Homo sapiens: one gene and its partners. The protein of the gene in region 7 purifies or fractionates together with the protein of the main gene of each other region. This does not show direct contact. Each region holds a gene or a part of one and is shown on either strand. Other genes may lie near its edges. The genes, in order: RLIM, RNF138, RANBP2, HERC3, PRICKLE3, ATP1A1 and DYRK4.

Region 1 (3,500 bases), on a different chromosome or scaffold from region 7:
TCCAACTAGGTCTTTTTCCATTCCATATATATTTTTACCATTCCAGTAGTAACATATCTTATTATGAGATTCTGCTTCAGGTTTTGCTGAATTAGTTTTCTCAACTTTGAAAATATTCTCACCTATGATTATTTCATGTAGACTACACATAGGGGCTACTTCTGCAGTTCAAACTCCTTGAATAATCAACACTTGGCTCTTTGAATAAACAATAACTTAAGTAGTATCAGTTACATTTGTCAACAAATCAAGAGCCAAAGAGAAAACCACTCCATCATTTACCTTATTTTTCAGTTGATTAGTGACATTGCTTTTCAATATTCCCAGCTTTTTGGACCACTATACTTACCAAAAGTCCAATATTATGTTTATTTTCTCTGGACACATTTCTTCAGCTTCTGCACTCAAACATAATTTCACTAACTCACCATCAATAAACAGCTTTCCTCGTTTAGCCAATAAATGAGCCCCTGGGAAATTTACTTTGATTGAAGCCTCATTTTTATTTTTGTGAAGAAATATTTTGTGATGAGATTTCACTTTAAATTTTCTAACTTTTTGAACTGTAGTTTTCCTGTGAATTGGGAATATTGTCACTAGTGTTTAATAGTGTCAGTATATATTGTATTTAGTATATAGTATTTTTTGCATAATCATGCATTCTTTGCCATCTAATCTGATTTTTGAAAAACCCATCCTCTGCTGCACCTTTAAGCGTGACATTCAGAGTCCACTTTTCTCTTTGTTTGAGATGATGAGTGTATACTCAGTTTTTTTTAATGTCCAGTGTGAAGGCACTTGAAATGCTGTCATTATAGCTACATCACTGCAACTTAAGAGTGCACAGAGCAGCAGTCCAAAGCAATGGGAGTGCCACATACAGTCTGTCACAACTGCTCAACTCTGCCATTATAGCACAGAAGCAGCCATAGATAACATGTAAATGAATGTGTATGGCTGCGTTCCAATAAAACTTTATGAACACTAAAATGTGAATTTCATTGCATTTTCATATGTCACAAGATAGTCTCTAAAAACCATTCTTAGGTTGCAAGGAGAATAAAAATATGCAGCACGAGGCTGGGTGCGGTGGCTCATGCCTGTAATCCCAGCACTTTGGGAGGCTGAGGAGGGCAGGTCACTTGAGCTCAGGAGGTTGAGACCAGATTGGGCCAACATGGTGAAACCCTGTCTCTACTAAAAATACAAAAATTAGCTGGGCGTGGTGGCAGGTGCCTGTCGTCCCAGCTACTTCGGGAGGCTGAGGCAGAGAATCACTTGAACCCAGGAGGTGGAGGTTGCAGTGAGCTGAGATCGCACCACTACACTCTAGCCTGGTTGAGAGAGCGAGACTCCATCTCAAAAAACAAAAAATACCACAGTATGGCTGGATTTGGCCCAAGGGCTTTAGTTCGCCAACCCTGTCTGGTTCAAGGGCTGTAGTTTGCCAACCCTTGACCTACTCTTAATATAACAGTGCTTTTCAGGAGTTTTTGTTAGGAAATTTCATTTGAGGTCTGAAAATCCATCTCTAGACCTACATTCTGGATTTTCACATAATTAAAACTTGTATAGAATACATAGTGACCTTTATTTTCAAGATTAGTCTCTTTTCTCTTTTCAGGTATTTTCCACTTGTTCATCAATATGGAAAACTCAGATTCCAATGACAAAGGAAGTGGTGATCAGTCTGCAGCACAGCGCAGAAGTCAGATGGACCGATTGGATCGAGAAGAAGCTTTCTATCAATTTGTAAATAACCTGAGTGAAGAAGATTATAGGCTTATGAGAGATAACAATTTGCTAGGCACCCCAGGTATGCTTACATATATTTAAGGATTTATAAGTGTAAGTTGCTGGTTTAAAAAAAAATGCTTGAACCTGTTTTAAAAATCCATTTCTTTAGCCCTTATGAAATATTATTTAACATAGGGGATATGGAATGACATTTATTGCTGTATTTATTACCTGATTATATTTACTGATGTTTGGAATTACACTATATCAGAGAGATTTTTAACTTATGAATTATGAATTTTTAGCGAACTGAATTGAAAAGAATGGAGCTAAATCTTTTTTTTCTTAGTTAGCTTTATCTAACTTACTAGATAAGAATCCGAGTGTGGAATAGCTAATGGGAACTTAGTTTTTAGGAAAGACTTATTCTGTTATCTCTGATTTTCTGAATATGTCCCAGTTGTAATCCTCCAGAGCTAGCCTTGGGTAACATAGCAATTAGAAGTTTGTGCTTAATTATCTTTTACCCCACTAAGTCCCATTTGATCCTAGTTAAAAGTCAGTATCTGTCTTCCTCTTCATTTCTGTTTAATTCTACTTACCTTTGAGTAATTGCTTAGATTTTAAAAGGTAAGGTTTTAGCATGACTTTTAAGAGAGGGAGTGTGTTTTTAGCCAACAATACCAGGCTTGAATCAGAATGCTTTAGGTGGAGTTCTGGCCCTGCTGTTTGGTGTGGCTCCTGGCAAGCCAGTCTGTCGCTCAGTCTGTTTCTTAATTTTAAAATGCAGATAACAATATCCTCCTCTCAAAGCTGCAATTCTTAAAAATTACTTACTTATTTATTTTTGAGACAGGGTCTCATGTTGCCCAGGCTGGACTCAAGGGATTCTTCCGCCTGAGTCTCCCAACGAGCTGGCACTACAGATGTGGTACCACTGTGCGCCCAGCTTAGAATTGCCTTTGCCTTTTTTTTTTTTTTTTTTTTTTTAAGCAGAGTCTTGCACTTTCGCCCAGGCTGGAGTGCAGTGGTGCAGTCTCTGCTCACTGCAACCTCTGCCTCCTGGGCTCAAGCGATTCTCCTGCCTCAGTCTCCTAAGCAGCTGGGATTACAGGCACCTGCCACCATGTCTGGCTAATTTTTGTATTTTTAGTAGAGATGGGGTTTCATCATGTTGGCCAGGCTGGTCTCGAACTCCTGACCTCCGGTGATCCACCCGCCTCGGCCTCCCAAAGTGCTGGGAGTACAGGCGTGAGCCAAAGTTAGATGTTATATGCAAAAGAACTTTGTAAATTGCTTTTAATATGTTTCCAAAGAAGTGAATTTTTCCCAGGACCTACCTACTCCTTGGTTTTTCTTTTTGGTTTGAAAAAGTTTTCTCTTTTAAAAATATGATTTTTTTTCTAATCATCTTGTGTCAGATTACTGTGAGTCACTGATAAAGTATTTGATTGTCATACCCCTAATGTCATCTTTGCCCTGTGGTGTTAAATTTCAGGTGAAAGTACTGAGGAAGAGTTGCTGAGACGACTACAGCAAATTAAAGAAGGCCCACCACCGCAAAACTCAGATGAAAATAGAGGTATGTTTTGGTTTTGGTGGGGAGGTGGATAGACGATGGGATGATAGGAACTTTGTAATAGTAAATGTCAGCCAAAGATTATCCAGATTTGGCACAAATTAATTTGGTGCTAAGTAACTGCTCATAAAAAGAAAACTGACATTTTCTTGATACTTAGAATGTCAGCATTTTTTTTCTACCT
Region 2 (3,500 bases), on a different chromosome or scaffold from region 7:
ATTTATGTATGTATTTAAGAAATCACAAGGGCCGGGCATGGTGGCTCATGCCTGTAATCCCAGCACTTATGGGAGGCCAAGGTGGGTGGATGACCTGAGGTCAGGAGTTCGAGACCAGCCTGACCAACATGGTGAAACCCCGTCTCTACTAAAAATAAAAAATCAGCCAGGTGTGGTGGCGCATGCCTATAATCCCAGCTACTTGGGAGGCTGAGGCAGAATTGTTTGAACCTGGGCGGCAGAGGTTGCGGTGAGCTGAGATTGCGCCATTGCACTCCAAACTGGGCAACAAGAGCGAAACGCTGTCTAAAAAAAAAGAAGAAGAAAGAAATCACAAAATATTTGGTTAATTTTAAGGAACATGTAGGAAAATCAGGTGTTAACAAATAACCAGCATTAATTCTCTAATCTGGATTTTATTCTATCATTTGGAGAAGGAATAAAATAGAGAGGGGTGGTTAGGCTTTGAGTATATCCATGTGTCTATAGATTTATCACCGACATTTTTTCTAATAGCTAATGAATTCAGTGAGCAAAGCTGGTTGCTATTTCATGCATTCACACAAGTCAGATCTGCTTTTACATCTTTTTGAAGGAAGTGTTTAACTGACAGGGCAATGACGTGAAGCTGGAAAACACACTCGAGAGATTCTGGCTATTCCTCTCAGTGAGAAACTGAAAAATGTTCCAAGTATTCCTGGCAACTTAATTTTTTTTGAGACAGGGTCTCACTTTGTCACCCAGGCTGGAGTACAGTGGCACAATCTCGGCTCACTGCAGCTTTGACTTCCCAGGCTCTAAGCAATCCTCCTGCCTCAGCCCCACAGGTAGCTGAGATTACACCTGGCTAATTTTTGTATTTTTTGTATAAACAGGATTTTGCCATATTGCTCAGGCTGGTCTTGAACCCCTGAACTCAAGCAGTCCACCCATCCCAGCCTCCCAAAAGGCTGGGATTACAAGCGCGAGCCACTGCACCCAGCCAGGAACTTAATTTTTTTTTAAGTGCTTTCTAACTCTGCCAGGCTGCAGAAGTTAAATAATAAGACATGCCCAATAGCATCTGGCATCCTCTTAGTGCTTTTAATTTTTTTGTCTACTGCTGGTAGTGTCTTTTCAAGTGTGAAGTTATTTGCTGTTTTTTGCAGTGAATTTATAGACAGATGGACTCTTCTCCATCTCTACATTTAATGAACAGAAATGTATTATCTATTCTTAACTCCTACTTAAGGATGAAATCATTTACTTTAAAAAAATACAACTCCTGTTTAAATGGAGTATTTAGTTACTTTTATTTTTTCCTCTCTTTACACTATTTCAAATCTTACGAGTTCTATTTTAAATTAAAAGTCACATTTTAATAATTTACAGATTAAATTCTATCGCATGAGACATCATTACAAATCTTGTAAGAAGTATCAGGATGAATATGGTGTTTCTTCTATCATTCCAAACTTTCAGATCTCTCAAGATTCAGTAGGGAACAGGTAAGCAATACTTATTCCTAAATACAGAATTTTCATAATTGAAATGGAAATTGTTTTGGGAACTATATGATAAGGTATTTGGGGGGATGTGTGTGTGTGTATGTGCACATGTGTTTTTAAAGTGAATTGCCAAGTATCAGAACTACAGCATTTGCCTTAAAATCTGTTTGGCACACGTAAGCTCTCATCTGGGAGATGACTTCATGAACTTCAGCTTATGTTATTTAAAATCATTCTAAGAATTTTCATTTTTTTGAGTAAAAAATAAGTTGGAGATTTTTCTCTTACTGATTTTGCAACTGAAATGATTTGAAAAACTATAGAAAATCCTTTTCAGTAATGTATTTGCAAACTACAACCTGTTTTTTCTTTGCTATCTAAGGGATAGACTTAGAGTTTGAAATTTTTATTCTAAAATGTCATGTAAAAATGAAACCAGGTGCAGTGCAGTTCTGTTTGAGTCTCATTTCTTTTAAACAACTAGATTTGGATTGATTTGTATCTTATCTCAGATTCATGTACATTAAACATTTTTATGAAATGTATTTTACACAGAAAAATGGCCAAAATGCACTTGTGGTTTAAAAAAATAATGATTAACATCCAGTTACCTATTAACCCAGGTCAAGAAAGAACATTTTTCAAAACTTCAGGATCTCTATGTGAGCTCCTGCCCATTTGAACCGTACACTCCTAGATGCAACCACTATTCTCTTATTTGGATTATTCATTCCTTTGATTTTCTTTATGTATCATCACCCATGCATGTATCCCTAAACAATGCATTGTTAATTTTGAAAACTTCAGTAGTAAGCACATACGTAACTGTAAGGAAAGACAATATTGCCACTATTATAGAAAGGTTCCCAGGAGACAGTATGTTAAGCAGTCTCTAATATTTTATTTTAGTAGCCTTTCATTTTACATATTGCTAATTTTTAGTAACTTAACCGCCCTTAAGCACTTCATGTTGATCATACTACATTAGGCGTCTTCCCTACTCAGTTGAAATTTCTGGTAAAAACCTTTAGTGATTGTCTGGTAAAGATCTGCAGTAATTTTCTGATTGCCTAGTCTGAAAAAACTTCAGGTTCTCATTTTACTTGACTTGTTAGTGTCAAGGAAATTTGTTTGAAAGTTGTTGCTCTTATAGTTTTTTTTTAGTCCTTCTGGGTTTCTTCATTTCTATGTTTTTCTTATTGTTGTACTTCTACTTTATTGTAATTTCCTATCTGCTTTTTTACCCAATAGATTGTTCTTAAGTGAGGGGATGGTGTTTGTCTTGTTGAGCATATCTCCAGCTTTTAGTAAAGTTCTTAGTATACATGATTGTAATCACGCTTTTAATGACCAAATTTTCTTATCAGGAGACAGGCCTTCCTCCCCCTTATTTCTTAGATCCACTTGGTCATAGACACTTGATTCCTAATAGCAATATTCCTCATCTGTACTTTTATTTTATCTTGTCACTTCCCTAGCTCAGGCCCTCATCATCTCTCACTCGAACTATGATAATAGCCTTTTTAGCTGGTAGTTATCCTCTAATCTGTTTTACATTCTATCGCCAAAGTAATATTAATGAAGTATAAAAGACAAAATTCTGGCTGGGCGCGGTGGCTCACACCTGTAATCCCAGCATTTTGGGAGGCCAAGGTGGGCAGATCACTTGAGGTCAGGAGTTCAAGACCAGCCTGGCCATCATGGTGAAACCTTGTCTCTACTAAAAATACAAAAATTAGCTGGACGTGGTGGCGCGTGCCTATAGTCCCAGCTACTTGGGAGGCTTAGGCAGGAGAATCACTTGACCCTAGGAAACGGAGGTTGCAGTGAGCCGAGAGCACATCACTGCACTCTAGCCTGGGCGACAGAGTCAGACTCCGTCTAAAACACACACACACGCACACACACGCACGCACGCACACACACACTTCCTTATTCCAAAGCCCTTTCTGATCTGGCCCTTTCCTCTCTTTTTATAGCCTCTTTCTTGGTTATCCATCGTTGCATCACATG
Region 3 (3,500 bases), on a different chromosome or scaffold from region 7:
TGTTATTCAGGGTGATGATGTAGCAGATGCAACTTCAGAAGTTGAAGTGTCTAGCACATCTGAAACAACACCAAAAGCAGTGGTTTCTCCTCCAAAGTTTGTATTTGGTTCAGAGTCTGTTAAAAGCATTTTTAGTAGTGAAAAATCAAAACCATTTGCATTCGGCAACAGTTCAGCCACTGGGTCTTTGTTTGGATTTAGTTTTAATGCACCTTTGAAAAGTAACAATAGTGAAACTAGTTCAGTAGCCCAGAGTGGATCTGAAAGCAAAGTGGAACCTAAAAAATGTGAACTGTCAAAGAACTCTGATATCGAACAGTCTTCAGATAGCAAAGTCAAAAATCTCTTTGCTTCCTTTCCAACGGAAGAATCTTCAATCAACTACACATTTAAAACACCAGAAAAGGGTAAGTACTTTGTTGTTAAAGTTAAGCACAATTTTTCTTTCTTTTAATGTTTAGCTTGATGCAGACTCTTTGTAGGATACTAATGTTGGGATATAAATGATGCTTTGTGAACACCCCCAAAATATTTGAGCAATTTTTTTTCTCCCTTAATAAGTTCACGGTGAGGTTTCAAAGAGCAAGAGAACTTAGTTTAAGACATTTCAGTAACTGGAAGATACTTTTATCATGCTAGGGCAGAGCAAAAGAACTCGGTACGGTATACGGACTCATGCTTGAATCATGCACATTAACGTGAGTCTTTTTTTAAAGTGTTCATTTTCATTTGTTCAGTTTCTTTTGTCACTCAGAAAACATGATATTGAGGCTGGGCACGGTGGCTCACTCCTAGAATGCCAGCACTTTGGGAGGTTGAGGTGGGCAGATCACTTGAGCTCAAGAGTTCGAGACCAGCCTGGCCAGCATGGTGAAACCCTGTTTCTACTGAAAATACAAAAATGAGCCGGGCGTCGTGGTGCGTGCCTATAATTAGCAGCTACTTAGGAGGCTGAGGCAGGAGGATCACTTGAGCACAGGAGATGGAGGTAGCAGTGAGCTGAAATCATGCCACTGCACTCCAGCCTGACTGAGTGACTGAGACTTTGTCTCCAAAAAAAAAAAAACAACGTGATATTGAGATGTTCTCATTTTATATGTTGTATGTCAGTCTTGCTCATGTATTAAATGAGCAAAGAATGAAACTACAGGGATAAATGAATATGTAAGACAATCAGATTGGTGGTATAAATTGAGGGATTCTGGCTTTTTATGTTTTAAAAGCATATTCATTTTGTTTCCTAAAATGTTAAAAAACGAAATATTCTTTATTTTCTAGGATTTAATTTTAGCCTTTTTAAATCTAATCCCATGGCCTTTTGGACTAGCACCCCTTCCTCACAGCCTGAGAGCAAAGGTATAGAACTAGCATTCTCAGTATGAGATAACAGCAGTTTTTAGCAGCTGGGTAGCCCTTAGCAAAGTATTAATAACTGTGGCTGTATGAAATGAAGTACTTACCACTACAACATGCATGTTAAAGAATGCCAGTTTAAGCAAAGTACCTTTTGACTGGTGGCATGACACCCTTGTTGGTTTGTTTTTTAAAATGTACTGGGATGCTGATTTGTAATGTACTTCATTGCTCTGCTATTTCAGGTCTGCTCAATGAAGACCTATGTTTTATCTAATGTTTATGTTTAGCCACTAACGTCTGCCAGTATTCAAATGTAGTGGCAACGGCATGTATACAATATGGAAGAGTGTCCCTGTAGGGCTGTTCTTTTGTGCATGGTTTAGAAAAATGTTGTATTTGAAAATGGACCCCGTTTTTAACAGCCAGCATTCTACAGCTTGCATATTATATATGTTGCACCGATCAATTTTAGAAGTGTGGCTACTAGAGTGGAACAAGAAGTGGGATCTGTTGAAGGCCTTCAAGAACAGGTTAGGGAAGTGAAATCTCACCCTTAGTGACCAGTAACACATCTTAGCCATGCCAAACAAGTACAATGATAAAGTAGCAATCTCTGATTTTTTTTTTTAAGTATACCAGTTTTATTACTAGCTAAGGTAGCTCTTAATCTTTTATTTTTAAAGATACGGTCTTTGAGAAATGTGAAAAGTGTTAACTTAAAAGTGGATGTATACTTGCGTACAGTTTCTGTGAGCTCTAGGTTAGGAATCCCTGACCTAAGAATGAATGTGCCTATATACTACTGTAGAACATAGAGCCTTATTTTGTTTTGAATCTGATAATGTCATTGTCCCAAGGGACCTTAGAAATGAAGACTTTAGACATGAGTAAACTGAGGCCAAGAGAGGCTATCTGATTTACCCAAGGTGTCTTTACTGAGTAATAGCAGAAGTGGAACAAGAATCTGTATCTTACGGTGTACTGTTATTTCTCCTAGCTAGAAAATGATACTAAGTTTTTGTTTATAATGAAGGAGAGGGACAAATTTAACATTGTAAAAGGAAGGGCACTGGTTCTGCAGAGCAGTGTCATCCAGTAGAAATAAAATATAACCTGTGTATGTAATTTAAAATTGTCATTTGGTGCAATGGCTTGTGCCTATAATCCCAGTTACTTGGGAGGCTGAGGCAGAGGGATCACTTGAGCCCACAAGTTCCAGGCTTTAGTGAACTGTGATCACATCACTGCACTCCAGCTCTGGGTGACAAAGCAAGACTGCATCTCAAATAAATAAATAAATAAATAAATTTTCTAGTAGCCATATTAAAAAGAATAAAAAGAAACAGTTAAAAAGGGAAACAGATGAAAGTAACTTTATTGATAGATTTGATTTAACTTATGTCCAAAATATCATTTTAACTTCTAATTAATATAAAAATTAATGATATTTTACATTATTGTTTTTCACCAAGTCTTCAAAATCCAGTGTGTGTGTTTACACTTACTGTTAGCACGTCTTGATTTGGACTAGCCACCTTGTGAGGTTTTAATAGAATGTGGCTAGGCTACCATATTGGACACCATAGCTCTCAGAATGTTTCCCTATCACTAGTTGGTATACATGGCATGCTTCATGACTGGCTTGCTTTATTAAACTCCTTTAGCCAGAAGTTCAGAACAGGTTGCATATAGAAGTTTTTTCTCTTTCTAATTTTTTGCCCTTTGCATTGATGGTGGCTGGGGATGGGTTGTTTTTAGCCATATGAATGGTCTTAGATTTTATAGTGTTAGCTACCTATAGAGTCACAGTTGTTATTTAATTTTACTTAGTATCATGCTTGAACATAGGCAAACTAGATGCAACTCTAGTCACCTTCCATTCTTGGCAATTGTTAACTTTCCTTACAGAAACTAATCACAGTTGGCTTTGGATTAGTTTCATATGTATAGTAATACTTGCCTATGTTTTAAGATTTTTTTCAATTGCTGCAAATGCATGGATATTTTGGTAAACTATTGTATGCTAAGTATAGTTAGGCAACACTTTAAAATTTTTAACCTTTATAAATTCTAGAAATTTATAGTAATTCTTTTCAATGACTATTAAGTAAACACAAATTTTTTTTTGTTTTCTTTGGTTTTAA
Region 4 (3,500 bases), on a different chromosome or scaffold from region 7:
TTCCTGAGACTGTTGAGCTATTTCTACCAATAGTCCCTTAAGTGAAATCTAGGTTTTTCTATCAAGCTCCTCAAAACTCTTTCAGGCTCTACCTATTTCCTCATTTCAAAGGCACATCTGCGTTTTTAGGTATTTGCTGTTGTAGTACTGTACTTCTTAGTACCGAAATCTATATGTCAGTGTTCTCCAGAGAAACAGAACCAACAGGGTGTGAAGCCGAGGGGGGTGGGGGCAAGGAGGGATTTATTTTAAAGAATTGGTTCATGTGATTGTGGGGGCTGTCAAACCCGAAATCTGCAGGGTAGGCTGTAAGGCTAGAAATTCTGGCAATAGTTAATATTTAAATCTTGAGTCCAAAGACAGTCTGGAGGGAGAATTCTTTCCTCTTTGGAGGACCTCAAGTCTTTTTCTCTTAAGGCCTTCAGCTGATTGGATATGGCCTACCCACATTATGGAGGGTAACCTGCTTTACTCAAAGTCAATGAATTTAAATGTTCATCCCAACTAAAAAAATATCTTAACAACATCCAGACTGGTGTTTGACCAAACAACTGGATGCCATAGCCTAGCCAAGTTGACCTATAAAATTAACCATCACAGTCTGTAATAAAAATTGTTGTGATGGTGTTTCTCTTGGGTAATTGTATCAGAAAAATGTCATTAGTTTAGTGTCATGGGTTTCAGAGAAGTGAGGTGTTATATACGGTGTGAGAAACTTTCAGCATCAATGATTAACATGCACAATAATCTTTTTACATTAGTGGCTTTATTTTAAAGATTGCACAGTTATACCATTTTAAAAATGGGAAAAGGGAGGCTTACTAGTTAGATACAGAAGATGGCAGAGCCTGGATTTGAACCCCTGTCTGCCTCACTTATCCACTGTATTACACCATTTGTTGGCTAGTTATTGGTGTGGATGGTGAACATGTAAAAACTATCTGCTTGGAGGAAACCCAATAATTCAAATGTAGCTTTATGAAGTATTAAATTACAGTGATGGATAAGTAGTAAATAACTATCTTCATGATGTGAAGTTTTAAAATTGTTTTTAATCTAAAATACAAAAAGTTAATGTGACAAACATTTGTATATATGATCCACAGTCAACAGGTATTTGCTTCAGATTTTTTAATAAAAGAAAAAAATTACTGATACCGCTGTACATACCCTTAATTCCAAATTACTGATACTGTTGTACATACCCTTAATTCCATTCCCCTCTTCCCGCCCTTCTTTCTTACACAGACAAAACTCTTATGAATTTGATATGTTTTTTTTATGTTTTTATACTTTTTATAATAAACATGTATGTTAAAACAGATTTTTTTTTTTTTTTTTGAGATAGGGTCTTGCTTTGTCACCCGGGCTGAAGTACAGTGGCGTGATCATGGCTCACTGCAGCCTTGACCTCCTGGGCTCAGGTGATTCTCCCACCTCAGCCTTCTGAGCAGCTGGGACTACAGGCATGCACCACCAGGCCTGGCTAATTTTTTGTGGAGACTGGGTCTTGCCATGTTGCCCAGGCTGGTTTTGAATTCTGGGCTGAAGCCATCTGCCTGCCTCAGCCTCCCAAAGTGCTGGGATTATAGGCATGAGCCACTGCACCTGGCTAGACAAAGATCTTTTTACATTAATGTCTTTGTTTTTAAAAATGAACACTTACACATCTTATGTATGCATCATATTTATAATTTCATACTCATAAGCAAAATCTCATATCCATAAACAATATGATAATACTAGTTAATACTTACAAAGTAATTGTTATACACCAGCCTTGGTTTAAGCACTCTTACATGTATTCACTCATTTAATCCTAAAGCAGTCCCATGTGTTATCTACTCTTACTCTCCCCCATTTTACAAATGAGGACACAGGCATGGAGAAGTTAAATAACTTGCCCAAGGGTCACAAGCTCTGAGTGACAGAGCTACTACCTTTTATAAGTAGCATTGTTTTAAGTGTTAAAACACAACTTACATAAATGCCATCATATTTTACTGAACATGCAAATACTTGATTTTCACTCAGCATTGTTCTTGAGATTCTATTCATTTTGCTAAGTTTAGATCTAGTTAATTCCATCAAAGTGCTCTGCTTTATGGTTTCCATCATATGACTCTACCATCTTTTCCTTGTCCATGTTCATATTAATGGATGTTTAGTGTTGTTTCTCTAAATTCTCTATATTGCAAGAAAATGCTGCAGTAAACTTGCCTGCACTCATCTTCTTGTGCACACATGTTAGCGTCTCTGCATTACCTACCCGCTAGCACAGTGGCATGGTCAAGGGTATTTACATTTTCAACTTATCTAGATATTGACAGAATTTCCCCCCAAAATGTTTATGTCTAGGTTCACAGTTTATATTTCCACTTGTGAGAGACTGAATATTCCTATGGACAATGGCCAGGCCATATATAAATAAACATGGAGCTGAGACCCACAATCTGCAGCAACCTGCCCGGGAAACCAACCTCTTATCTGCAATAAGCAGCCCAGGAAGCCAGCCTGCTATAAGTCAGACTTGCAGGCAGCCTGATTGCCATCTGTCTCGATAACTTCTGTAACAGTGGGCCCAAATAGGCCAGGATGTGATTAATAATCAGCAGCTTCCCTAATTTTTGTTCCTACTTCCAACTTAGGGCCAACCAGAGAAAGCCAAATACACACCCTTAACCAGTCACATAGGATGCCCCACTTCTAGTTAGCCCACCTGCAGCTTCCCCAGACTAGCAGCCTCCAATCAGAGTGTACCTGAAGCCTTCCCTCTTTCCACTGTAAAGCTTTTCCACTCCTCTGCTTGATTTTGAGTCTCTGCCACAACACAAGTGACAGTGGCTGACTCTCTTGCTATAGCAGCTCTGAAAAAATAGCCTTTGCTCTTCTCATTTGGTTGATCTTTATATATTTCCATGGTTGCGATATGGTTCCCATCATTTCAGTTTATCTTCCTACCAACTGCCTATGAGGTTTCTGTTTTCCCCACACCTTCACCATATTGATATAATCTCATTTTTAAACTTAGGCCAGTCTGATGAGTGCAAATGACAATTCACTCGTCTTCATTTGCATTTGCCTGATTATTAGTGAGATGGAGCCTTTATTTGAGATGGTTCTTCCCAGAGGTAAAGGTTTTATAAACAAGGAGTTATAAAATGAACCTTTTAAAACAGGTGAGGATACAAGTATCAAGTGGTTTAGCTTTATTTGTTTCTGAGGAAAATGGCCTAGAACTGTTATCCTAGACTTTTTATTTTAAGCAGAAAAGGTCTTATTATTTTTTCCACACTAAATTTTAAGCAGGGCTTTTAACATGAAAACTGGAATACCTCAGGTAAAGCCAGTAGTTTAGTTCTATATACCTGGCCTGCTGCCCTTCCTATCTGGCTTATCCTGCCTTGGATCACCTGAGGCACTTGGTGGAATGTTAGGGCTGGGGATGGAGAGGGAGGAGAGGAGAGCTGGTAACCTATATGATGCCTTAGGATGCCTCC
Region 5 (3,500 bases), on a different chromosome or scaffold from region 7:
GGGGGCAGGGGTCGGAGAATGGCAGGGAGGTGGGAAGTCTGGGAAGTGTGAGGCCTGGAGCAGGCTCTGGGTGTTGAGAGGGTTGGAAGGAAGAACACGGAGCAAGATGGGACTGGTGTGGGGGGCGTGGCCAGGGCACCCGGGGTGGCTTCGGATGGAAGAGGTGTGGCATAGGCTGGAGTAGATTTGGTTTGCAATAAAAGGGGTGGGGCCTGACTGCAGAGGATGAAGGGTGACCGGCTGGAGAAGAGGAAGAGGAACTTGGGGTCAAGCAGAGACAAGTTGAGGTAGGGGACCAGCCCTGTATTGACAGGGTGGAACCAGGGTTCATGAGGCGGGTGTAGTTTGGGATGGAAACCAGGCCTGGACTGGTGTGGGGAAGGAGGATGAGCTGAGAAATGGGCGGGGCCCAGGGATACAGCAGGTGAAGGGCCTGGGCTAGTCAAGAAGGAAGGGCCAGGGCTGAGGCAGGGGCAAGGACATAGGGGTGACTGGGCTGTGGCTGGGTGTGGCTAGAGGGTTAGCTCACCTGGCGCTAACTCTGTGCTGGTGCCTTTGGTGGTGGTCTCTGATGCCCCCTTCACAGCAGAGAAAGAGGCTGTGGAGGCTGCAAGTGGGGCTGTGACAGGGCCGGCACTCCAGCTGCGGCGGCTCGGCCCTGGAGCTGTGGGCTCGGACCCAAGGCTGCAGGCTCGAGAGCAGAAGATTAGGCCTCGGCGTGGCAGGAATGGGCGGCCCAGCAGGGCCCGCCCACAGCGACTACAGCAGAAGCAGCGGTCTGAGGCATGCCAGTGCTGGCCCTCGTAAGCCATCTGGCCTTGGTCCAGGCCTGTGGGGAACGACGAGGGGGAAAAACTGAGGCAGAACCCCCAGGCGTAACCCCACCCCTCGTGAACGAGTCCCTTCTCAAGAAGAGGTGGGGAATCCGAGGCAGGGCACCCCTGGGTGCCTTCCTCCCTCCTCCAGAATGGGGCCCTTTTGGAGAAAGCAGGAAACAGGTTTTGGTTCTCTCCTGGAGACTGGCTGGTGAACCTCTCTCTCACTCCTCCCTTTCTTTCCCAGGGTGCTCTCTCCCAGAGCGGGGTGGGCATTGGACTCTAAGATTCGGGCCAGGCTTAGACATTAGGGGGTGGCTCCAAGTGGAAGGAGAATGGAAAGCTGGGCCTGAAGAGGAGGCCTGGCTGGTGGGGGCAGGGCTTAGCAGGTGGGGAGTGGCCCTGTTGAGAAAGGAGTGGTTCTCAGAGGATAGGGTGTAGCTAGAAGCTAGGCCTGACTTAGGCTGATACAGGAGAGTGGAGGAGAACGGGGCACAGCTTGGGGTGGTAGAGGCTAGGAGTAGGGCGAGCCCTGGGGCTGGAATTAGAGCACCCTCTGGAGGTGGGTGTAGACATGTGGTGGTGGCCTAGCATTGTGTTAGGTGGGGTTTAGAAAGCATGGCATAGTGGGGACATTGGGAGTGGGACTTGCAACCAAGCGTACAGGTCTATAGTGTTGGGGCTGGACAAAGTACAGGGCACAATGGAGGATGGGGCCTGGAGGACAGGAGGAGTCCTGGTGGGGTAGGACTGTGGCCCAGCTGTCCATCCATCCCTCTGTCCAGTCCCACAGCATTCACCCACCGATGTGCTCCCCACAGCCATCACAGTACTCCGCGTGGCGGGCCTCGTAGCAGGCGCAGCAGTGGGGGCGGCTCTGACGCATGACATAGCGCTGCCCTCCTAGTGAAGCTTCACACTCAAAGCAGCAGAAGTGATCCATGTGCCAGTGGCGGCCCTCAGCCTCCGTGCACTCAGGGGAGAAGATGATCTGGAGGGCGCAGGCCATCTGTGGCTGTCAGATGAGCCTGCTCCTGGCCCTGCCCACCCTCAACTCCCACCCCTGGGCAGGGAGGCCCAAACCTCGTCACAGGCTTGGCAGCGTGGACGCAGGCATTCGGCATGGTGACGCCCGCAGTAGACCTTGCCAACATGGTAGAAGTAGATGAGGTCAACCAGCAGTTCCTGGCACGTGGTACACACGAAGCACTGTGGGTGCCAGCAGGCACCCAGGCCTGCACGGCTGGCAAACACTGCGATGTCCCCACCTCCAATCTGCTTTCCGCACTGCCATGAGACAAGCACCAAGATGGTTACCATCACTGTCACCAAGATGGTCAGATGGATGGGGTCAGCCAAAGTATGTTACACTTGGGCCTTTCCCACAGTGAAACTTTGTGATCAGCCCCACCCATGGGGTAACTTTGACACAGGCCCTGCCTATACCAGGGATGGGGTTGGGCGGTACCTTAGAGACTGACCCTGCTCATGAGGGAAGCCGTAGAGACAGGCCCTACCCATGGTGGGTGGCCTTATAGGCAAGCCTCCCTCATCAGGGGTGGGGAAGACAGACAGGCCAGGCCTAGTGGGGGAAACCACAGAGATAGTCTCCACCCACCGGGACCTTAGCAATAGATCTCACCTAACAGTAGGATCTAAGGACAGGCCCTGCTTACCACTGGGCCCTGCAGACAGGCCCTGCCACTGTGGGTCAGCTCTTGAGGACAAGTTCTGACCACAGGAGGACCAAAGAGATAGCCCATGCCCCATGTCCACTGCACAGACGGGGAGAAAAACACACTAAGGCCTCCTTACAGACAAACCCCACACGACAGTGGGATTGATGGGACAGGTCCCTGTCCACCAGGGGTTGCCTTAGAGACAGTCCCTGCCCAACAGTGAGATGTGAGGAACAGACCCCGCCCACAAGAGGGGACCCTAGAGACACCTCACTGGGGCTTAAGTGGCAGGCCTCATCTTCCCAGTGCTTGGAAGATGTGTCCTGCTCCCCAGGGCTTGGAGCAGAGGCACTGCTCACTCGCTGAGGCCCTCCACGGCTCACCTCCTCACAGATGGCCCCAGTGATGGTCACCGGGAAGATGCGCACGATGCCACGCCCCAGATTCTCCCGCTTCCGCTGCTGGCTAAAGGCTCGGAGCTCTTTCTTTTCCTCCTCTTCCAGTGCTGTGCAGTACTGTGCCTGGGAGGAGAAGGCATCTCCCAGGCTCCTCCCTTGATGCCTGTCCCTGCCCCTCTTCCAGACTTCATCCATGCCCCGAAAGTTTACTTCTAGGTCTTTCTATAGATGGTGCCTCCTGCCTGAAGTAACCACCTCTTCTTCCAAGGCCCAGCTGTGGTTTTGCCAAGGAATGTCCCCTGATGACCCCTGCCTGTCTGGACCACTCACCTCAGATCAGCTCACCTTTCCTCCTCTGACCCTGCCCTGCATTGGCCCAGGCTGTGTGCTGTGCCTGGCATGCCCTTCCTGTCTTCTCTCTCCTCACCTCACTGTCGTGTGGGGGCAGCTGGTGCAGCAGCTGCTTGATCCTGTATTTCTCCCCAGGACTGTTGACGTAGGGGACCTTGTCCTCTGGGAGGCAGCTGAAAAATTGATATACCTGGGAGGACATAGGAGTGGGAGAAAACAACTGAAATGAGAGGTGAGTTGGGATGCAGTGAGATGGC
Region 6 (3,500 bases), on a different chromosome or scaffold from region 7:
AGAATACTTTTACATACACAATTGTGTTGGATGATTTAATAATGTATCGACCAGGAAAATGAGAAAGCACCCCTCCCCCTTACCTTTTACATTGAAGGTAGCCCAGACTTGGCAGCCTCTAGGGAACCAGCAAGGTCAGAGTCCATCACACAACTTTCCTGCTAAAGTGGTATTTGCCAAATCATGTCCAGAGGTGTTGTTTCTACAATCTTCTTGGCAACTCCGAAATGGGCTGCATTTGGGGCACTTCCTTTTGCCATCCTTCTGGCCCTTCTTGCCCGTCAAAAGCTTTTGTCTGTGGGCTTTGGAAATAGTCCAGTTTTTAAGGTGTTTTATTTTTCAGAGTTAATGGTTTCTTGACTAATCAGACTATGAAAATGCCTTCTCTAGGTTCTTTAATAGTTATACCAAGTGTTATTCCCATTTTAGGAATGAAGAAACTAAGGCTGACAGGCAAAGGTCATGTAGCCAGCATGTGGCAACACTAGAATAAATTGGCAGACTCAACACCATTAGCAGACCTGTCTGGAGGGAATGGTGGGTCTTGAACTTTCAAGTACCCTCTAAACTTTTTCAGCAGGAATTTCAGAAGTCTCAAGAATTCTGAGCTCCCTGCTGGCCATGGGACATTGTGCTGATATGGTGGGAAAAATGCAGGTTGAGAAAGCCTTCGCATCCTGCCCTGTTGGAGGCTGGTGTTTGGGATGGGTATGAAGGCCTTTGGCGGTGGCTATAGCTTATGCAGACCTGAAGCAATATACCTCTGGGATGGAAGATCCTGCTTATTTTGGGATAATTTCTAAATCTGTCATATCTATCCCCAACCCTGTCCCCATTAAATGGCTAATTGCCAAAAAAGAGGAAGCAACATCTTCAGCTCTAGCAAGTCTCGGGGATGTCTCACTCATTGTGAGGACTGTGAGGATTCGGTATATATTTTTAAGTGAGTGAACCTTGTTACATGTTTTAACCTTGGTTCCTCCTGTCAAGAATTTTATCTTCTCATGTCTTGGGCACCTTTTCCCTCTACCCAGATCAAATAGCAAAATGCTTAGTTAATCTTTGAGAGGATAGAATCCATGGGAAGCACAGGATGAAATGATGACGCTGTGCTAAGCTGTGTCACCGTGGGTAAGCCCCTGCCCTTGCTGTGACTTTCCACTTCCTAAATTAGAATGGAAGGGGGAAAAAAAAAAACCATAACCCAACTTCATTTTTATGAGTGGCCCTTTAGAAAATAGTGTAATCCGTTGAGTTTCCATTGTACCTTTCCTCAGAGATGCTCAAAGGGGCGGGGGTGCCCTTACATGGAACATGATGAGAGTGAGGATTAATCACTCCCAGTCCTCTGGGAGGGGGGAAGTGACCTGAACTTTCTAATTGAAAAAGTAGGAAGTGTGTGCCCAATGCCCAGATGAGTGGGAAGATTACTGTAGTTGATTGAGGAAATGCCGTATTTATCATTCACCCTTCCCATGACCTTTGTTTTTCCCTAATGCCTTAAAAAATAATAAGGAAACATTGTCCTACCTGATTCTACCACTGTTCATCTCACGCAGTGTGCACTCCCTGACTCTGAATTTTGCAGCTTTGAGACTGAGGTAATTGAGACTGATAGGGATTTAAGGATATTTGGTTCCCACAAGAATAAGCTAATATTAAGTTATTATTTTACTTGTGGAGAAGAACTAAATTGTATAAGCTGCCTGGTTCTTCTAGACACACATTGCCTAGTGAAAAAATTAAAATTTTGAAGAAAAAGCAGTTTTACTTGTTAATACTTGCCATGTGTCTCACCCACAAATAGCCTCATTTAAAACTTTGCCTTACCTAGCATGAATGGATAAAGAAAAAGGAGAGTTATTAGGGAATCTAAATTCCCAACTAACTTTAGCACTGATAGTGGTGAAGCTATGGGCAAGACATTTATTTTGTAAGTGGGGGTAAAACTTTGGAACGTGTTCAAAGCCTAGCTGCTCTAGTAATCCTCTCTCCTCTTCTGGAGTGGAAGATATTGGAAGTCTGAGAATAAGCAAAGCATGCAGATTATGAAGCTGAGGGGTTATAACTATTTCATTTATTGAAATATATTTCAATGATATTCAACTTGCTCAGAGAGAATCCGTGAGCTGTATTTTAAAAATCAATACAGGCTGGGCACGGTGGCTCACGCCTGTAATCCCAGCACTTTGGGAGGCCGAGGTGGGTGGATCATGAGGTAAGGAGTTCAAGACCAGCCTGGCCAAGATGGTGAAACCCCGTCTCTACTAAAAATACAAAAATTAGCCAGGCGTGGTGGCGAGCGCCTATAATCCCAGCTACTCAGGAGGCTGAAGCAGGGAATTGCTTGAACCCTTGGGCGGAGGTTGCAGTGAGCTTAGATTGCGCCACTGCACTCCAGCCTGGGCGACAGAGTGAGACTCCATCCCCAAAAAAAAGAAAATTAATACAAAGTGGTCACATAAATCTTTTAGAGATCCTTAGTCAATGTCTTTAAAATGTTTTTTAAGTGTTGTGCTTTCTCATTAAAGGTATGATATACCTTTAATTAAAGCTAAAGATATACCACTTTAGCTGTGGTTCCTTTCTGGTAGATGACCTGCCTTTTCCTTTTTGTTTTATTTGTCCACTTGTATGTGTTACTATTTTTCATTTAAACTCTGGCACCAAGAGCTGTACCGAAAGAGGCACCAACAAATGTGGTTGCTCCATAATGGAGAGAATGTCAAGAATGTTGACTATCTTTAGACCTGCTTCATTAATAGATAAGATAGAAACTAAAGAACCCACCCAGTTGGAAGAAGTTATTAGTCAAGTAGTGCTGCACACGTGACCACAGAAGTTAAAAAGGTAAATAATGTGTCTCTACATGTGGCCCACTCCAGTGAATTTGGAGAAGGATTTCTCCTTGGAGTCTTAAGAGGATATTTTTAAATTTAAGTGAACAATGTATTTTATTTGCAACTATTAGTTATGACTGAAACACACATAATACGTTTTGATTTTCTTTTTTCATTTCAGCACAGTGAAATTATAATCTGGACACGAGTTCCTAATTATTGCTTTAGTAGCTGGTAATGCACTTAGGAAAGTTAGAAATGAGTAAAGGAGAACCACAAAATAATAGTAATAGCACCATATGTCATGCATTTTAAGAAAATTGCTAATGTCTACTTTTTGGCCTTAAGTTGTAGTTGTGGGAGGCTGCTTCAGGGGGAGGTGTCTGGAACAAGGGGCTCTTCTGCTCCGCTAAGCTTTGGAGCACCAAGTTCAGGCTTTGTGTAGATAAGCTCAAGGATTTTTCAACAGGGGTGGGGGAGTGGAACAATCTAAATTTAAACTATAGAATCAACATTTTCTTTAAAAATTGTTCCAGTTTTCAAGAGGCGTAGGTGGATCCTGTGAATTATGTGATAATGCACACGCTTTTCCTACATCCTGCTTATGTCAAAACATTTCCAGAGACTTTCATTTTGGAGGTTTTATTTTCAGGCTACAGA
Region 7 (3,500 bases):
GTTTCAGGGCCTGTCCCCCTCCCCCTAGGATTTAGTACCCAAATCGTCTTATATTAGGGAATTAGGGGGAAGGTGAGCTGTAAACCATTTATTATGTACAACTTTTTATAATCTATATGCATATTTTGAATCTTAGAAATTAGATCTGTACTTAAGTCGTAGTACCCAGCACAGCACCCAGTTTAAAAGGTGTTTAGAAAACGTTAGCTATTCTTATTATTTTACGACTATTAAAGAGGTAAATCTATCTCCACAGAGTGGCAAGTAGATTATCCATGTGATACTTGGCAAGTCATCACTTTTTTCTGGGCCTCAGTGTTCTTTCCTATAAAATACGGTATTCCTAAGCTCCCTTCCAGTTCTATCAGTCCTATAATTTAGTATTTTTAGAAGACCATATCATTACAGTCTCTTATTCTTCCAGTTGGATGGAGTGATGTTATCAAAATACTCTTCTGGCATCTGTGCTCTCTGGAATTTCAGTACTAGCTCAGAGGGTGAACCATGAGGTAATGATGAAAGTATTCCCATCGTAGGGGGTCATGCTATTCACTCATCAGAATAATCAAGGTAGGGAAGGATCCTGTACCCCATCTTTACCCCTACCTTAACAAATGACAGAAACCAACTGCTGAGACAGATGGGTTATCCAGAAACCTCAACCATCCAGAACACAGCTCAGCACCAAGGAAGGCATTATTTTCTTCTTTAGTGCAAAGGACTGATTACTCATAACTTGCAAGAGGCAGTCAGGCTGATGGGGACTGTTATCTTATATATATATATTGCTAATTAGAAAATCTTTGAGACTAAAAGTTTTGAGCCAAGTTCAATAGGCATAAATGTAAAGCCCCGTGTCTAGACTTTGTAGGCGAACTCCAGAAGTCCAGGAAAGGAGAGATGTTGTTTAACAGCAATTCATTTGACACAGAAATGAGAGTTTGAGCTGTTTTAGGACCTTAATGAGTCTAGAATGTTAATACTGTCTCCCTGCAGTTATAGAAGCTATTCCCACCATGATGGACACCAGTTAGACAACTGCTAAAATATCCTTATTTCAGAAGGTGGTCAGATGGTGAAAACCATATCATATGATCATTAGTTAGTAGCGATGTAAATATTTTCAGATGGTTGAAGGACTGAACCATAAAATTAGGATAGTTATTTTGTGTGATGGTAATGTGTTGATGAATTAGGACCTGGGTAAAAGTTACTGGGAAGCAAACCAGTTTTGGCACAATAAAAGTCAAGAACTTTTAAAGAATCGGAGTTTTTTCAGAATTGGAATAGATGGTTCTGTGAGTTAGTATCTTGTCACTGAAATTACTCAAGAATTGCAGGGTGATTCCATGATGGTAGTTCAGTCAATGTATTCTGCTACTGTATTACAAGTTTGATTGGATTATATCCAAGTCCCCTTGCAAATCTTAATATTCTAGAATTCTGTAAATCTCCTTGCAATATTTTTGAAGCCCCAATTCTGTAGTCTGGAAATTGAAATCTTTGTTTTAATATTCTTAGCTTACCAAACCCTAAATCCTATTGATTAAGCTTTTGTAAAATAATATTTCTTATAAGGAAATTTCTAGGAATGCTGGAAGACTTGGACTGTAATATATATTCCCTGGCTTGTTATACACATCTTCTAAAAAGATTATTTCCATTAGTTGTTTCCAGGTACTTTTAAGTTATATGCCATAATCTCTGTTCTATGATTATATATCTTTGAGATATCAACATAGCTTAAATAAAAATCTTTATTGGGTTTTAAAAATGTTTTAATATATTAAAAGGAAATAAAACAATAACCCATGTGGGGCTTTGTTGGGGTGCAGATGGGAACCTTCTCTTCGCATGACCCCGGACCAGGCCCTCAAGCATGCTTGGATTCATCAGTCTCGGAACCTCAAGCCACAGCCCAGGCCCCAGACCCTGAGGAAATCCAATTCCTTTTTCCCCTCTGAGACAAGGAAGGACAAGGTTCAAGGCTGTCATCACTCGAGCAGAAAAGGTACAGCCTGTCAAATAACCAGTCCTAGTCCCACAGTCCGGGAATTAATATTCTAGAATTCTGTAAATCTCCTTGTGATATTTTTGAAGCCCCAGTTCTGTAGTCTGGAAATTAAAATCTTTGTTTTTAATATTCTGTTTAATATGCTGTTTAAGCATTTCTGAAGGATTTGCATGTCAATTTCTCTAACCTCAACCTGGGATAATTCTTGTGGCTACATCATGACTAGCCTGCCATTTCTTACCTTTGGGATTTTCCTTTTCAGGGAAATTTGGCATTAGCCTGGATCTTTTTTGCCCCTTATTAGGATTTTCCATTTTTCTCCTATAATCAATTTCCTTTCTCCTCCTCCCTTTTTCATTAACTGCGTCCACCCCTTTATGCCCTATAATTACCTTTAGAATTTCTGTCAGTGCCAGATTATGGCATTATGCAAATTTTTATATGCAATATAGCCTAGTGGTTAGGTACATGGTCACAAGAGTCAGGTTACCTGGGGATTAAATTCTGGTTCTACCACTTATCAGGTGTGGACTTAACCTCTCTGTAGCTCAGTATCTCCATTTATGAGAATGAGAATAAAGCCTGTTCTCCAGGGTCGCTGAAATGATCAGACGAATTAGTAAATGTACAGTGCTTAGAATAATGCCCGGCACATTGGAGGTGCTTTACAAATGAACTGTTTTTATATCATCACGGTCATCGTTTCCACTAAGTGATGTACAACCTAAAGGACAATTAACATATAATCCACATTTGAATCTTGTTCCCTTCTGTCTTCTCTCTCCTTTAGCAGATGAGATCACCAAAGAGACTACAGAGAAAACAAAAGATAGCCCCACGAAGCATGTTCAGCATTCAGGTGATCAGCAGGACTGTCTCCAGCACGGAGCTGACACTGTTCAGCTGCCTCAACTGGTAGACGCTCCCAAGAAGTCAGAGGCAGCTGTCGGGGCGGAGGTGTCCATGACCTCCCCAGGACAGAGCAAAAACTTCTCCCTCAAGAACACAAACGTTTTACCCCCTATTGTATGACCTTTGCTGAGGGTATGTCCTGCTCCTTTCCACCAGTGATTTGTATTAAGACAGCACTTATATTGTACAATACTTCAGACTGTTTTTTTTAAATACATAAAACTTTATGTTAAAAAACTCTATTAACATGGCCAATTGGCATGACTCCTCTTATGAGGGATGGGGGAGGATGTCCTTGCACTTAAACTCATTCCATATGCATCTGTGTGTGTAGAGGGGGCGGGTAGTTTTGAACTCTCAGTGTTACAGCATCATTAATGGAACTCCAAACAAAAGAAATTTTTTTTCTTCTTGCCCATGACTGCCAACCTATGTCAGGATTTTTGTTTGAAAATGATAGAAGCTGAATTCAAAAGCAGTTTAAACAACGGAAGACACTTATTGACTTACATAATTGGGGCATCAGAAAAGGTAGATGTAGTTTCAGGCGCAGCAGGATCCAGGAATTCAAATG

What was found.
Region 1: the proteins of DYRK4 (region 7) and RLIM purify together in Homo sapiens (affinity purification with mass spectrometry, with the first as the bait; one large-scale study listed by BioGRID). This does not show direct contact.
Region 2: the proteins of DYRK4 (region 7) and RNF138 purify together in Homo sapiens (affinity purification with mass spectrometry, with the first as the bait; one large-scale study listed by BioGRID). This does not show direct contact.
Region 3: the proteins of DYRK4 (region 7) and RANBP2 purify together in Homo sapiens (affinity purification with mass spectrometry, with the first as the bait; one large-scale study listed by BioGRID). This does not show direct contact.
Region 4: the proteins of DYRK4 (region 7) and HERC3 purify together in Homo sapiens (affinity purification with mass spectrometry, with the first as the bait; one large-scale study listed by BioGRID). This does not show direct contact.
Region 5: the proteins of DYRK4 (region 7) and PRICKLE3 purify together in Homo sapiens (affinity purification with mass spectrometry, with the first as the bait; one large-scale study listed by BioGRID). This does not show direct contact.
Region 6: the proteins of DYRK4 (region 7) and ATP1A1 purify together in Homo sapiens (affinity purification with mass spectrometry; one large-scale study listed by BioGRID and IntAct). This does not show direct contact.

The regions. Positions count from the first base shown.
Region 1 is NC_000023.11:74,594,125-74,597,624, reverse strand, and holds part of RLIM (E3 ubiquitin-protein ligase RLIM), read left to right. Parts: intron 1-1,624; 5' UTR 1,625-1,647; coding exon 1,648-1,816; intron 1,817-3,235; coding exon 3,236-3,319; intron 3,320-3,500. UniProt on the Homo sapiens protein: E3 ubiquitin-protein ligase.
Region 2 is NC_000018.10:32,112,374-32,115,873, forward strand, and holds part of RNF138 (E3 ubiquitin-protein ligase RNF138), read left to right. Parts: intron 1-1,371; coding exon 1,372-1,487; intron 1,488-3,500. UniProt on the Homo sapiens protein: E3 ubiquitin-protein ligase involved in DNA damage response by promoting DNA resection and homologous recombination.
Region 3 is NC_000002.12:108,767,982-108,771,481, forward strand, and holds part of RANBP2 (E3 SUMO-protein ligase RanBP2), read left to right. Parts: coding exon 1-407; intron 408-1,278; coding exon of another isoform or gene 1,279-1,356; intron 1,357-3,500. UniProt on the Homo sapiens protein: E3 SUMO-protein ligase which facilitates SUMO1 and SUMO2 conjugation by UBE2I. Involved in transport factor (Ran-GTP, karyopherin)-mediated protein import via the F-G repeat-containing domain which acts as a docking site for substrates.
Region 4 is NC_000004.12:88,700,480-88,703,979, forward strand, and holds part of HERC3 (probable E3 ubiquitin-protein ligase HERC3), read left to right. Parts: intron 1-3,500. UniProt on the Homo sapiens protein: E3 ubiquitin-protein ligase which accepts ubiquitin from an E2 ubiquitin-conjugating enzyme in the form of a thioester and then directly transfers the ubiquitin to targeted substrates.
Region 5 is NC_000023.11:49,176,374-49,179,873, forward strand, and holds part of PRICKLE3 (prickle planar cell polarity protein 3), read right to left. Parts: intron 3,434-3,500; coding exon 3,320-3,433; intron 3,016-3,319; coding exon 2,878-3,015; intron 2,103-2,877; coding exon 1,899-2,102; intron 1,807-1,898; coding exon 1,620-1,806; intron 830-1,619; coding exon 530-829; intron 1-529. UniProt on the Homo sapiens protein: Involved in the planar cell polarity (PCP) pathway that is essential for the polarization of epithelial cells during morphogenetic processes, including gastrulation and neurulation.
Region 6 is NC_000001.11:116,379,744-116,383,243, forward strand, and holds part of ATP1A1 (sodium/potassium-transporting ATPase subunit alpha-1), read left to right. Parts: intron 1-3,500. UniProt on the Homo sapiens protein: This is the catalytic component of the active enzyme, which catalyzes the hydrolysis of ATP coupled with the exchange of sodium and potassium ions across the plasma membrane.
Region 7 is NC_000012.12:4,610,708-4,614,207, forward strand, and holds the end of DYRK4 (dual specificity tyrosine-phosphorylation-regulated kinase 4), read left to right. Parts: intron 1-1,835; coding exon 1,836-2,011; intron 2,012-2,804; coding exon of another isoform or gene 2,805-2,807; coding exon 2,808-3,046; 3' UTR 3,047-3,168; downstream 3,169-3,500. UniProt on the Homo sapiens protein: Possible non-essential role in spermiogenesis.